Linked DNA regions of Homo sapiens: all the other regions are reported to be linked to region 2. The links are microRNA targets in miRTarBase. Many come from high-throughput screens and were not tested one by one. Region 2 holds a microRNA gene; each other region holds the end of a gene's coding sequence. Distances are between the middles of the regions.
What was found. The annotated mature microRNA hsa-miR-30a-5p reads UGUAAACAUCCUCGACUGGAAG and lies in region 2 at 1,005-1,026, shown strand. An mRNA with a match to its seed (bases 2 to 7 or 8) in the 3' UTR can be bound and repressed. Matches are read on the target gene's strand: a 7mer-m8 pairs with bases 2 to 8, a 7mer-A1 pairs with bases 2 to 7 and ends in A, and an 8mer does both.

Region 1 (3,185 bases), 11 Mb from region 2:
AATGAAACTTGTAAAGGATAAATGAAGGGTGTTTTATGTTGAAAATTTTACGTTCAGTAATAAAGAGTATTACCAACTAAAATAAAATTTTAAAAATGGATACTTGCAGGTTTCTAGAGTCAACAATGCATTAATAGTAAGAACAGTATTTAAAACAAACAGACTTGTCTTATTTTTAAATAAAGTGATACTTTTATTTTTCCCATATTCCCTTATACTTATTGAATTTATATAGCCTCTATCTTCCAAGGAACTTAGAATGTTTTATAAGCTTATAGACTTAAGAATATTAGGGCTGCAAAACATTAATTAGTTGTCAAATAATAACAATTTTTTATCTTAAGAATAAGGTGTTCTTTTAATTGACTTTTTTATTTCCATATTTTGGAGAACAGGAAGGAGTGATGTGATGGAAAACAAAGCAGTAGCAATTGGAAAGTCCAAACAAGAGAATAAGTAGGGGGATGAAAAAGAAGCAATAAATTATAACTTCAAAGAAGCCATCTACCTAACAGGGAAAACTTGGCTTCACTTTATCAGATTCATCATTGCTTCAAAGAGTTGATGAGAAAAGCTAGACTAATGAATCTACTGCTTCCCTGGTTCTTAGATAAAGCTCCACTTTAAACTGTTAGATTATCATGTGATGAAGAAACAATTCTTCTCAATAGAGGCTCTATCAATATTATAATTTGTTTCCTACAATATCAGAAGACTTACTAAGTCCATCAACAGTTTACTAAGATAGTGGTCACTATTTTTGACAGATTAGTATCTCATTGTTCTTACCAAATAATGGCAACCAGACAGTTTAGGAATTTCTGATGAACACTTAAACTGTTTGATGGAATTTTAAGTGCCAAATATTTAGCTTTTTCTGAGGTAATTATAGGATCTGAAATATAACCCTTAAATAATAAATACTATATTTCACAAAACAAGCCTGATGGAATTTAAGGAATTACAGCTTTGTATTCTGACTATATATTCTAACCTATAAAAAGGAAGATTTACTTATTTTTAGCCCTACTTTGAAAATTTCTGAATTTAATTCAAAGAAGGAATCAGCAAAGATTTCTAGAACCTAAAATACTATCTGATCCTATTTTATTTATAAAAATATGAAAATGTAGATTTTATTTCAAACATAAAGCACTGAAGGACATAACCAGTTCAAAGGAAAAGCAAGCCCTAAGACTTACTGATGCAAGTTTACCTAATACTTTCAGTTAAGCAATAATGGCTACATTTAAATCACTTGATAAAAGAGCCTGAAGACTGATTAATGGAATTTACTTTTCAGATTAAATGACAGATAATAAACTGAAAAAATAATAAAAGCCTTGTATATTATGGATGTATCAATTAATGATTGCCTGTATTTACACCTAAATGTGATTTATTCTTCACAAAGGTGTATATACTTACATTATGAACAGCTTAGCTAAAATCAAAATATCCTCAAATTCTTAAACACTGAACTGAAGATAAGAACCTATAAATACTTGAGACACGTGTTTACAGATGTAGACATTTATCTGTGGTTATTTCCTCAAGTTCATATTCAACCATGTCAAGTCAACTTTTTAAACATATTAGCTGGGTCTCTGATAAACTAAAGAACATTTATGTTCCACTTTAAATGTTTTTTTGAAAATATCCTCAAGAAAATCTAAGTTTCAATTTACATTAAGACATTGAGAAATATTTTTTAAATTATATTTTATATCTTTTATTTCAGAATATTGTCTTTAAGACACTTTATCTTTATATTTATTTGCATTACATTTGTTTCAAATTCTGCTCTAAAAATCCACAGAACAATTTCAAACAGAGTTTTATTAAGTAAATACTATTTTTCTAGACCAACAATAACTTCATTAGCCTTGAAAAAGCCCCAAACTGGGAACTGTTTATTGTGCAGAACGCTTAGCTTTTACCAACTTCATTATGTTCTTACAAAACTGTTTCATAAATAGCATTAACTTTGGGACCATACAGTCACATGAATACTCAAACTCTCCATTTAAATACTAAAAGGATCCACCATTTCAAAACGATCTCCCAAGTCTATTTATATTAGACATTGCTACAGTTTGATTCTCAGCTATGTTAAGTAATAATTATCATCGGAACCAAGACCATTGAATACTCCTGCCCTTCATCCTTTTTTCAAAGCAAACTTGCACACACTGTAATTCTTTTAAGAATCTTTATTTTTTTTTTTTTTAACAATTCAGTCGGTTGGATCTCGATGCAGTTTATTAAAAAAAAATCAGTACATTTTCATATAAACTGCAATCAAAAAAGTAATTTACTTTGTCAAAGAAGTTATGAAGTTGCAAGTTATTTTTTGTAATATGCAGAACAGTAAAATGTAAGCATGCTCTTGGATGCAGGTGCTCCTGTGCACCATGGAGTTATTTTGAAGAGCCTGCTAACGTCTGCAGGCAGTTTATAGGATGCAATTATTTTCTCCACAACTTAGGTACATGAGAATAAAACTGATATTTATGAATAAAGTATTTTTCTCGAAAAAGTTGAGGCAGCTTTTGTTGAATGCTATCTGTGTGGGTACACTTGCTACACCTTGAACTGTACTGAGAGAGAGACAGACAGCAAGAAGCCCATGTTCATGCTGAAACCTGAAAAATCCCTCCATACGTGTTGAGGAGTTCCAAGAAAAAGAAGAGGGTAAAACACTATACACAACTGTTCATCGTCTTACATTAACAGAACACACCGAGAAACTTTACATAACAAGGAAGCAAATCCCCTTCACTGCTTTTAGTCAAAGTCCGTTGTATCTATAGTGGAGGATGAAAGTGGAGCAAGCCTAGTAGGGATAAAGCTTAAGTCTACATCTCATGCAGAGTTGTCCTTGGTCTGTCCTCTAATATTTCTCAGACATCCGAGTTAGAACTGAGGTTCGTTAATCTGGGGTCCGCATTGATTTCATATCTGTAATGATACCCTTCCATGTGATCCCTGCAGGCATCTCTGATGTTATGCATCCACTTTTTTATCCCCTTGCGGTTCAAATACAAAACCAGGAGGAAAATAGCGCCTATCAGGGCTAAAACAATACCCAGGAAGACATAAGAGGTTTGCAGGGATGGGGGAAGAATCGGGTCACAGTCCAGGTCAGCACTGTTGAGTTCCAAGAGGACCCGATTCCTCATTTT
Region 2 (3,185 bases):
GTTAGTTTCAGTAAACATGATGCTTTTTGTGTGGATTTTATTTTTGTTTCGGGTTTGAGATCACAAACTACTAAGACTTACACAATTTAAGAACCTTACGGTAACTTCATCTAAAAACAAATCTCAGGGAAAGGCACACCCACTTTTCTGTATCAACTTAATCTTTCACTAGATTCAGAATGGTTTTGAATTACTTCAGGAAAGTAGTGACTGATAGAGCTTAACCTTCAGTTTTCCTCATTTATTTTCATAAGAGAATGGGAGTGGAATTCAAAACATTCAAATTTGGAGTTAATGTGCGTCACTGTTGTGAGTGATAGGTTCTGTGTTTTTCCAGTGGGAAACTTTGATCCACATACTGATATATGCCTGTGTTATACCTCGTTATTCTTTTCTGTTTTTCTCCTGATTGTTGCTTACTCTTTCAAAAATCAGCTGACTGTACAAGTCCTCTCTGGGAGCAGACTTTAGAGCAAAAGTGATCTATAAAAGCAGCATGTAAGTCTTTTTTTTTTTTGTCAGAGTTTATAACTTTCCAAGTAGACCTTTTATATTTTCACGGTAGTCTAAGTTCACTCAACTGCAGTATTTGATGTTAAATGTACGCTTTACGCTGTTAAGATAATTTAGTTTCTGTGTTTGGTCACTTTTGCTTAAAGGATTGTAATTACATAATGCATGTTGAAATCATATTAAGTAACCTGGCCACTTGCCTATTTACTTCTTGTGGCTAACAATAATGAATGAAACCATTTATATATGTTGTTTTAGTATATCACAAAATTTTATAGAAACTAGAAGCTCGGTGATGAATAATAGACATCCATGAGCCTTCTTATTTGTTTTGAATTTGAGACATTTTCTAGAATATTGCTGTTTGAATGAGGCTTCAGTACTTTACAGAATCGTTGCCTGCACATCTTGGAAACACTTGCTGGGATTACTTCTTCAGGTTAACCCAACAGAAGGCTAAAGAAGGTATATTGCTGTTGACAGTGAGCGACTGTAAACATCCTCGACTGGAAGCTGTGAAGCCACAGATGGGCTTTCAGTCGGATGTTTGCAGCTGCCTACTGCCTCGGACTTCAAGGGGCTACTTTAGGAGCAATTATCTTGTTTACTAAAACTGAATACCTTGCTATCTCTTTGATACATTTTTACAAAGCTGAATTAAAATGGTATAAATTAAATCACTTTAAAACCATGTCTGTACATTTTTAGAGGGCTTCAGCAGGGCATTGAGGAGGTGCTCTGTGTATGCATAGAATTTGCAATATCAAAAAGAAAGTATTCGTAAGAGAAATGAGGAAATGTGTTACAGTATTTTTATTTTTTTTAAAAGCGTAGTAGGGCAATATTTCCCAGAAAAATCTATGAAGTGATTTGTTTTGTCCTGCCCTTTCTGCAGTTTCAAAATAGGTGTTTTTTAGACCCATTCACAAAAAAAAAATCCATTAATGAAACCACAATTATTTGGGGGAAAAAAGTAAGATGAAGGGTTAGTTATTTTCACATTACTTGGATTAAACCCCTTTTATTTCCTTATAGGCTTAGTGTTTAAGTAATAAAGTAGCAGCTCTCAGCTTAATAAAGTGTCTAAAACAAACAAATACTGATTCAACTAACTCTATTATTTGAAAAACCTATTCTTGTTTCAGATGATTAGAATAGTATTTTAGGAATTTGTGGATACTGTTTCCATTTGGTTGAACTTTTAACTTAGCTTTATGCAATAACTCATATCTCTTAAAAATAATAAATACATCAAATTCTATCCTAAATATATGAAGACAATTTTAAGATTCAGAATCCTGTAGAAGATTTCTGTGATGGACATAATTTCTAATTTTCCTTTTTTGTAAATGCGTATTTTTCTTATGGCGGATATTTTTAATATTATACACTTAAATAGAAATATTTAAGTGTATAAGAGAAATATTTAAGTGTATAATAGAAATATTAAGGATACACTTATATAGAAACTAGACACTTTAAAAAGATATGAAAGTGATATCTTTTGTCCTCTAAAACACAGTATTTTATAAATATATAGTGTTTCCATTAATGTAAAAGAGTTTCTTTTCCCTGTTTAATACCCATTGATGATGATGATAAAGAAGTGATACTAAAACAGTATGATCATACCACTATTTAAAATAGTAGCATTTCTTCTAATACCTGGGATGGAGAGAAATATGTGTTAGAAATGTCTTTAAGTTTCCCTCATACATAAAGCTATCAAAACTCTATTAGTCATGCTGGGCCATGAGAGGTTCATCAACTGCCACTGAAATGCAAGGGGCTTGGAGAGGCCTCTGCCAGGCCCTGGGTCTGGAACTGAGAATGTGGTCTATTTTAATTGGTAAGCTGAAAACCCCTGGAGCAAATAACTCGGCTGTTTTTCTGGGGTCACCCGACCGTATTTCCTAGGTAAATGACTATAGGTTTGAAGAAATGGTTAAACTTTTCCTAAATCTTTGACCTTCACTTTCTTTAGGTTCTCTTCCTATGTTATTTTATATCCTCTTCCTTACCTTACTGCCCCTAAATTTTCCATTTTTCATTTTTATCTGTTCATTTTGTTCATGTAAATAATTAGTTATGGGAACTTTTTAATTTGTAAAAATTACAGCATTTTTAATTATTTTTAAATCAACAAATACAAACCTCCATAAGCCATTCCGGGTAGTTTCAAAATTAATACCTAGTATTTCTTATGTCTTGTGCCCCACATTTCCACAGTAATAATGTAAACTACTATTTTAAAGTAACATCAACAGTCCAGGCACGGTGGCTTACGCCTGTAATCCCAGCACTTTAGGAGGCTGAGGCAGGTGGATCACTTGAGGTCAGGAGTTTGAGATCAATCTGAACAACATGGTGAAACCCTGTCTCCATTAAAAATACAAAAATTAGCTGGGTGTGGTGGCACGTGCCTGTAATCCCAGCTACTGAGGTGGCTGAGAATTGCTTGAACCTGAGAGGGAGAGGTTGTGGTGAGCCAAAATGGTGCCACTGAACTCCAGCCTGGGCGACAGAGCGAGCCTACCATCTCAAAAAAAATATATCTATATATATATATAGATATACATATAAATAAATAAAATAACATCAACAGTGTGTTATTCATAATTGAAATAAGATCTGGATGCAATTTTTTATTTTACAAAAAAAATAACTTCTAA
Region 3 (3,185 bases), not on the chromosome of region 2:
TGCAGAGGCTAAATTCCAGGCCAGAGGTTGGAATCTCTCTTCCTTCACCAAGACCCTACTCACAGAGTGGAGCCTCTACTCCAAGGATGGTAGGCTAAGAATACTGGAGCTCTGGTCGCCACTGCCCCAGCTTGCTTGTAGGCTACTGCCTCTGCTCAATTTGTAAAGCAGGGGTGTCACTCTTGAGAGAACTGGGCCTTTGTGCCTACTCATGGTTCTGGAGCAGTGGCTCAGAGATCTTGCCCAGGGGCAAGAGGCAGTCCATAAGAATACAGTTCTGACATAAGCCTCAAAAACAATGGGGATTTGGGTGGTAAGCAATTAAGAGGAGACTGGTAGCTCCATTAGAACAACAAGCTAAACCATAAACTAGCTAGTTTACCAGAAACAAAGAAAACAAGGAAAGAGACAGCTAAAATGGGTCCTCCTGGGATCAGAACAAACCTCAAAGGCTGGCCTCAAAAACTAACGCTGCATTTTGATGGCAGTGAAAATACTCGTGTAATACTATACTGATGGATACATATTATTATATGTTGCATAAACCCACAGAATTACACCAAGACTGAACACTAATTCAAATTAGACTTTGGGTGATTATGATGGGTTGAGGTAGGTTCTTCAAGTGTAACAAATGTACCACTCTGGTGCACCAGAGATGTTGATAATGGGGTAGGCTATTGCATGCGTTGGGGGAGAGGGTATATGGGAAATCTCCGTACTTTCAATTTTCTTGACCTAAAACTACCCTTAAAAAAATAGACTTAAAACAACAAAAGCACCCCTGAAAGGGATCTCAATTTTTTTTTAATTTCCACCTTCCATCCCACCACCAGTAGAAAGGGACTCAATTTAACGGATGACTGTGGAGCAATTTATGTGCCATAATGTAAATAATGTAAAATGCTGCAGCTGATATGTAAAATCTGGTGGTTCTTCAAAAGGTTAAACATAGTTACCAAATAACCCAGTAATTCCCCTCATAGGTATACTAACAAAAGTGAAAATAAAAAGGAATGAAGTACTGATATATCTACAACATGGATGCTGAATGAAAGCAGCCACTTACAAAAGATCACATATTGTATGAGTCCATTTACATGAAATGTCCAGAATAGGCAAATTTACAGAGATAGGATGAGTTGTTGCATTGTTGGTGAGGTGAAGGAGGCTGAGGGAAATGGCTAGTTTTGGGGTGATGAAAATGTTCTAAAATTGATTGTGGTGATGGTGTCCAAGACTGAACGTATTAAAACCCACTAAATTTTCCTCTTTAAATGCATGAATTGTATGGTTTGTGAGTTACATCTCAAATCTCAATGTAGCTTATTTTTAAAAAATGTAGCCAAGGTCGGAGGATCACTTGAGGCCAAAGAGTTTGAGACTAGCCTGGGTAACATAGCAAGACATCTCTACAAAAAATTTAAAAAATAGCCAGGTGTGGTGGTGAGTGCCTGTAGTCCCAGCCACTTACGAGTCCGAGGTGGGGGTTGGGGACTTGAAAAAAAAAAAGTTAAGATTTTACATAAATAGTGATTCAAAAACACTTTAAGTCTGTTTAGGATGCTACAGACCGGGTGGTTTATAAACAGAAACTTATGTCTCAGTTCCAGAAGTCGGAAAGTCTAACAAAAAGGCACCAGATTTGCTGTTTGGTGAGGCCCCACTTCATAGTTCACAGATGGTTTTCTTCTTGCTGTATCCCCACGTGTTAGAAGGGGCAAAGAAGCTCTCCAGTGTCTCTTTTGTAACAGCATTTATCCTATTCACAAAGGCTCCAGTCTCATGACCTAATCATCTCCCAAAGGCCCCATCTCCAAATACCACATTGAGGATTAGATTCCAACATTTGAATTTTAGGGGGGCACAACAAACATTTGGTCTACAGCACAAACTAAAAAGCCATTTGCAGCAATTTTTGTGAACATTCATTGAGATGTGCTCTTACAAACGCTTTGTTTTTGTGCTAACTTCTAAATATAAATTTTACAAAAGTGCATTAGGGAAGTGGAAAACTCAAAATGCTAGGTGGTTAAGATGTAGCAGCTTCACTGCTTTAACTAAAACAGGGGATCTGGATCGTTTTCTACTAGCAACTGGACTTTGGGTCAGATCATCTGAATTCAGAATTTTAGGCAGCCCATATTATTATATAATATCCTCAGTGAGGTTTGTGGAACACCACATAATCAACTCGTCTCTAAATTTCTCTGAGAGAAATAAATACACTAAGAGGAATAAATCAGGACTAAAGAAACCTCACTCCAGCTCAGGTCACATTTGGCCACCAAATGAATTTGTGTTAAAACAATTATGTCAACAAAGCCTTTTAACTTTCAAATCTTTTCGTATCTCCAAACTGCAGCTTAGGGGACATATGCTGTACAGTTCAAGTCTCAGTTCTGCTGTATCACCTGTGAAGAAAATACCTACTTGTTTTATAAGGCTGATGTGTGACTCAAAATAAAAAAATGAGATGATGTGGTATATCAATGATCCAGTAACTGTAAAGCATGATGCAAATACATGTTCATATTATCAGTTTTTTAAAAAAGCAAAGTTTGTTAATATTTATTATCTTATTTTTAGAACAGAAATAACATTAAAATAGATGTTTTTAGAATATCAACATACAATCAAAAACACAAAGTCCAAGGATCCTCCCCATCTCCAAGGCTTAAAGGGCAGCTATCCAGCTGTAGTCTATTTTCCTAAATTTTCTCAGTTCTTTTTCTTCAGATTTTGACAACTGATGTATAATGTCTTCTCCTAAACCTGTGTTACTTGTATCCTGGACTTTTTCGGTAAAATCATTTTCTTCATCTGAATCTTCACTTTCTTTTTCTTCTTCCATATCTACATCTTCAGGAATTTCCTTAGCACTTTAACAATAACAGAATAAAATATAAACACTATTAAATGTTTCTAAACAGTAACTTTCTAATTTGACACCTATGTAGAAATATAATCACACAAAGTAAATGAAGAATTTTGTTACTAAGTACACTTTAAAAATTATGGGTTATTTATAAAAGAGCAGGTGAATTTACAAACATGTAATTTTAAATTATGTACCAAGCCCTTAAAACACACACATACAAGATCTTTTTTGAAACTTATTTTCAATGTATGTTACTTGACTTAATAATCCTATAGCCTTTAAATCTATTTTAAAACTTATGAAA
Region 4 (3,185 bases), not on the chromosome of region 2:
CAGGGCCCCACTTTGAGGAGCGGCAGCCACTGCCCACAGGACTGCAGAAGAAACGTAAGTCCCAGTCCAGCATCTACAGATAATTATGTACTGTTAGTGTGGTTTTCAGGTATTGTACAGTTGCTTTGTAAAATAGTAAAGCACTTAGGAGTCAGAATTAAATACACCTCTTTTGTTCGTTGCTAATGTATGTAGTAAGAACTCGAATCGGATTATTCCCTGAGGGATAGCAGCTTTCAACTTCTGTGTTGAGAATCTCAGAAGTTAAAAAAAAATGTTGAGATCAAAATCAGTATTCTTAGGTTTCAGATGAACTGTCTGGATGAAGGCACTTGTTTATTCTTATGAATGATAAAATGTTTGAAGAGGTGGGAAGAGAAGCATTAATAATAAATAGTTTTTAATTCTGAAATGTTTAAATTTTAGGTCAACCGGGAGAAAACCGAGTGACTCTGATATTTTTCCTTGGGGGCGTAACCTTCGCTGAAATTGCTGCCCTGCGATTTCTCTCCCAGTTGGAAGATGGAGGTACAGAATATGTCATTGCCACCACTAAACTAATGAATGGAACCAGTTGGATAGAGGCTCTGATGGAAAAACCTTTCTAGGATGTTCAGAGGAGACTTAACAAGTGTACTGCAGAATAAACTACCTCTTTGAAGAAATTGCTGAAAGGAAGTAAAACCCCATAGAAGAAACATGGGAATACAGAATATATTCTGGGGTCAGCTTCTTAAATTATACTACTGTTTACTGCTTTCTCCGTCTCTTTTGTATTCCCTTTTTTTTTTTCCTTTGAGACGGAGTCTTGCTCTGTCACCCAGACTAGAGTGCAGTGGCACGGTCTCACCTCACTGCAACCTCCACCTCCTAGGTTCAAGCAATTCTCCTGCCTCAGCCTCCTGAGTAGCTGGGACTACAGGCATGCACCACCACACCCGGCTAATTTTTGTATTTTTAGTAGCCATGGTGTTTCACCATGTTGGCCAGGCTGGTCTCAAACTCCTGACCTCAGGTGATCCACCTGCCTCGGCCTCCCACAGTGCTGGGATTACAGGCCTGAGCCACCGTGCCTGGCCCCTAATCTGCTGAAGAAAGAAGAATAGAAGAAAATCAACCTGAGTAAAAGCAGCACTGGTTTTGAGTTTTCTAAGCTCAGGGTCTTCATTAGAGACCTCTGGAAATACATTAAGGATGGTGGGGGTAGATAATCCATTCAGCCAGACAAACGGGGCCAGCTCTTAAAATAAGAAAGCTGAGACTGAGGAGGTGAAACTGAAAATAAAAAGAGAAAGTTCATCCTCTAATCCCCAGTGCTGTATTTCTTCAAGGCGCATCAGGCCTAGGACAGTGGTTAAGTGTTGGGAGCTGGAGATCATTTTATCACTGAGTTGAGATTTCTTTTTCCTGCAGAGTGTGGGAGATTATATTTAGGGTCATCAGTCACTGTCGCAACTGATCACTAAGGCAAGTTTGCTTCCTTCTACTTCTTACAAAGCAAGAGGTTTAGGGGAGCTTCTTGCCCAGAAACAAAGTTTATGCTCTATGTGATCAGCTACATCTCCTTAGGTTCCATACTTATCAGGGGCTTTTGACATGGAAGAATGTGATAATTGGGGAGCAACCTTCTGAGAATTCAGCCTTTGAAGTAATTCAAAGACAGTTTCTTAGCACACACGTTAACTCCAGACACAGCAGTGGTGGGTGCCTCCATTGAGGTTTCCGTTTTCTCTTCTGTCCATCAAGGGCCCAACATCCAACTGGTCCCACAGTGAGCAGGGGCAACTCTTGCTTCTTCAGCATCTGGCCACTTCGTTTCCATGGTAACTGCCACGTGTACTTTTCTAGCAGTCTGTGGCCACTCCGTACTCAGCTGAAAACACTGTTTCAGCCCCCTCTCTGGTGACCTCAGCCTTCTCCAGGTGTATCTCTTGATGATCTTGGAGACCAGCAGCCACAGCTGCTGCTACTCCTGCAGGAGACTGTCAGGCTGTGGTGGGGGGCAGGGGTGTTGGAGGAGAAGTTGAAAATCCGTGTGTTCTCTGCCCCTCTGCTCCTCCATCTTAGCTTCTGGAGGAGTTAAGGCACCAAGGGCACCAAGTCAGGTTGGCAGTTTTGCTGCCCTTGCCCAAGCCTCCAGCAAAACTAGCTGGTCCCCTGCTTTGCTGGGTCCCAGCCAGGTGTGATTTTGGTTGTTGATTAGTAACCACACATTGTTTTTCCCCACCTTTTTCATTAGTGGAGGTTTTTGTTTTGTTTTGTTTTTGTTTGTTTGAGACAGAGTCTCACGCTCTTTTCAGACTGGAGTGCAGTGGTGCGATGTCAGCTCACTGCAACCTCCACTTCCCGGGTTCAGACGATTCTCATGCCTCAGCCTCCTGAGTAGCTGGGATTACAGATGTGCACCACCACACCTGGCTAATTTTTGTATTTTTAGTAGAGATGGGGTTTCACCATATTGGCCAGGCTGGTCTCAAACTCCTGACCTCAGGCGATTGGCCCACCTCGGCCTCCCAAAGTGCTGGGATTACAGGTGTGAACCACCGTGCCCGGCCCATTAGTGGAGTTCTGATGGGCACGGTAAATATTATTAATGAAAGAGAAATTCTGTATACTTTTTTAAAAATCTCTTTAATGAAAGAATGAAGAGTGGCAGAGATAATAATTGAAAGATTAGTTTCTCATGGAATTAATTTGGCCTTGATATTCAGTATTTGGAAATGTCTTAAAGAAAACCATTTTCATTGTAGAAAATCCTTTTTTAAATACTTGTTATATCCCAGGGAGATTAGTTTATACCTTCCACCTCAGGCAGTCATCAGCTGCTTTAGAGAATGGAATCCACCCTGCCCCTCCATTTTTTGGTTCCTGGGGCTCAATTCAAGTCTGGTCAAGTCTCCCTGGCTGGGGATTCTGTCCTGGGAACAGATACTCAGTTGTAGTCTCATGTGTCTGCACTCACCCAAGACTCTATATACTTGCTTGCTCAGAGCATAGTTAGGGCAGCTCCTAAAAATGCATTCAGCAGAAGACTGAAAAACTTCAATTGCTTCATTTGTATGCAAATAGAAAATGGTAGATAATTATATATTATACGCCTTTGTGTAAGTTCATTTAATACTTGAAGCAGTCTTTGTCTCAAAAGAGTATGCCCTTACTGAGAAAGGATATGTGAACGGTACATT

Region 1: the mRNA of TPBG is a reported target of hsa-miR-30a-5p. The part of its 3' UTR that is shown has no 7-base or 8-base seed match.
Region 3: the mRNA of WDR75 is a reported target of hsa-miR-30a-5p. The part of its 3' UTR that is shown has no 7-base or 8-base seed match.
Region 4: the mRNA of VPS33A is a reported target of hsa-miR-30a-5p. Seed matches in the 3' UTR shown: 7mer-m8 at 748-754.

Annotation. Positions count from the first base shown.
Region 1 is chr6:82,365,943-82,369,127 of GRCh38, reverse strand. It overlaps TPBG (trophoblast glycoprotein), which reads right to left. Exons shown (of 2, transcript NM_001376922.1): 2 at 1,708-3,185. The coding sequence ends at 2,904. Among named protein-coding and RNA genes, the nearest start is that of TPBG, 3.7 kb to the right of the region's middle. RefSeq lists an enhancer at 2,897-3,185.
Region 2 is chr6:71,401,436-71,404,620 of GRCh38, reverse strand. MIR30A (microRNA 30a) reads left to right here and starts at 1,000; the gene lies at 1,000-1,070. RefSeq lists an enhancer at 2,004-2,532.
Region 3 is chr2:189,474,910-189,478,094 of GRCh38, reverse strand. It overlaps WDR75 (WD repeat domain 75), which reads right to left. Exons shown (of 21, transcript NM_032168.3): 21 at 2,543-2,882. The coding sequence ends at 2,678. Among named protein-coding and RNA genes, the nearest start is that of WDR75, 35 kb to the right of the region's middle.
Region 4 is chr12:122,229,669-122,232,853 of GRCh38, reverse strand. VPS33A (VPS33A core subunit of CORVET and HOPS complexes) reads left to right here. Exons shown (of 13, transcript NM_022916.6): 12 at 1-54; 13 at 427-3,185. The coding sequence ends at 608. Among named protein-coding and RNA genes, the nearest start is that of DIABLO, 5.2 kb to the right of the region's middle.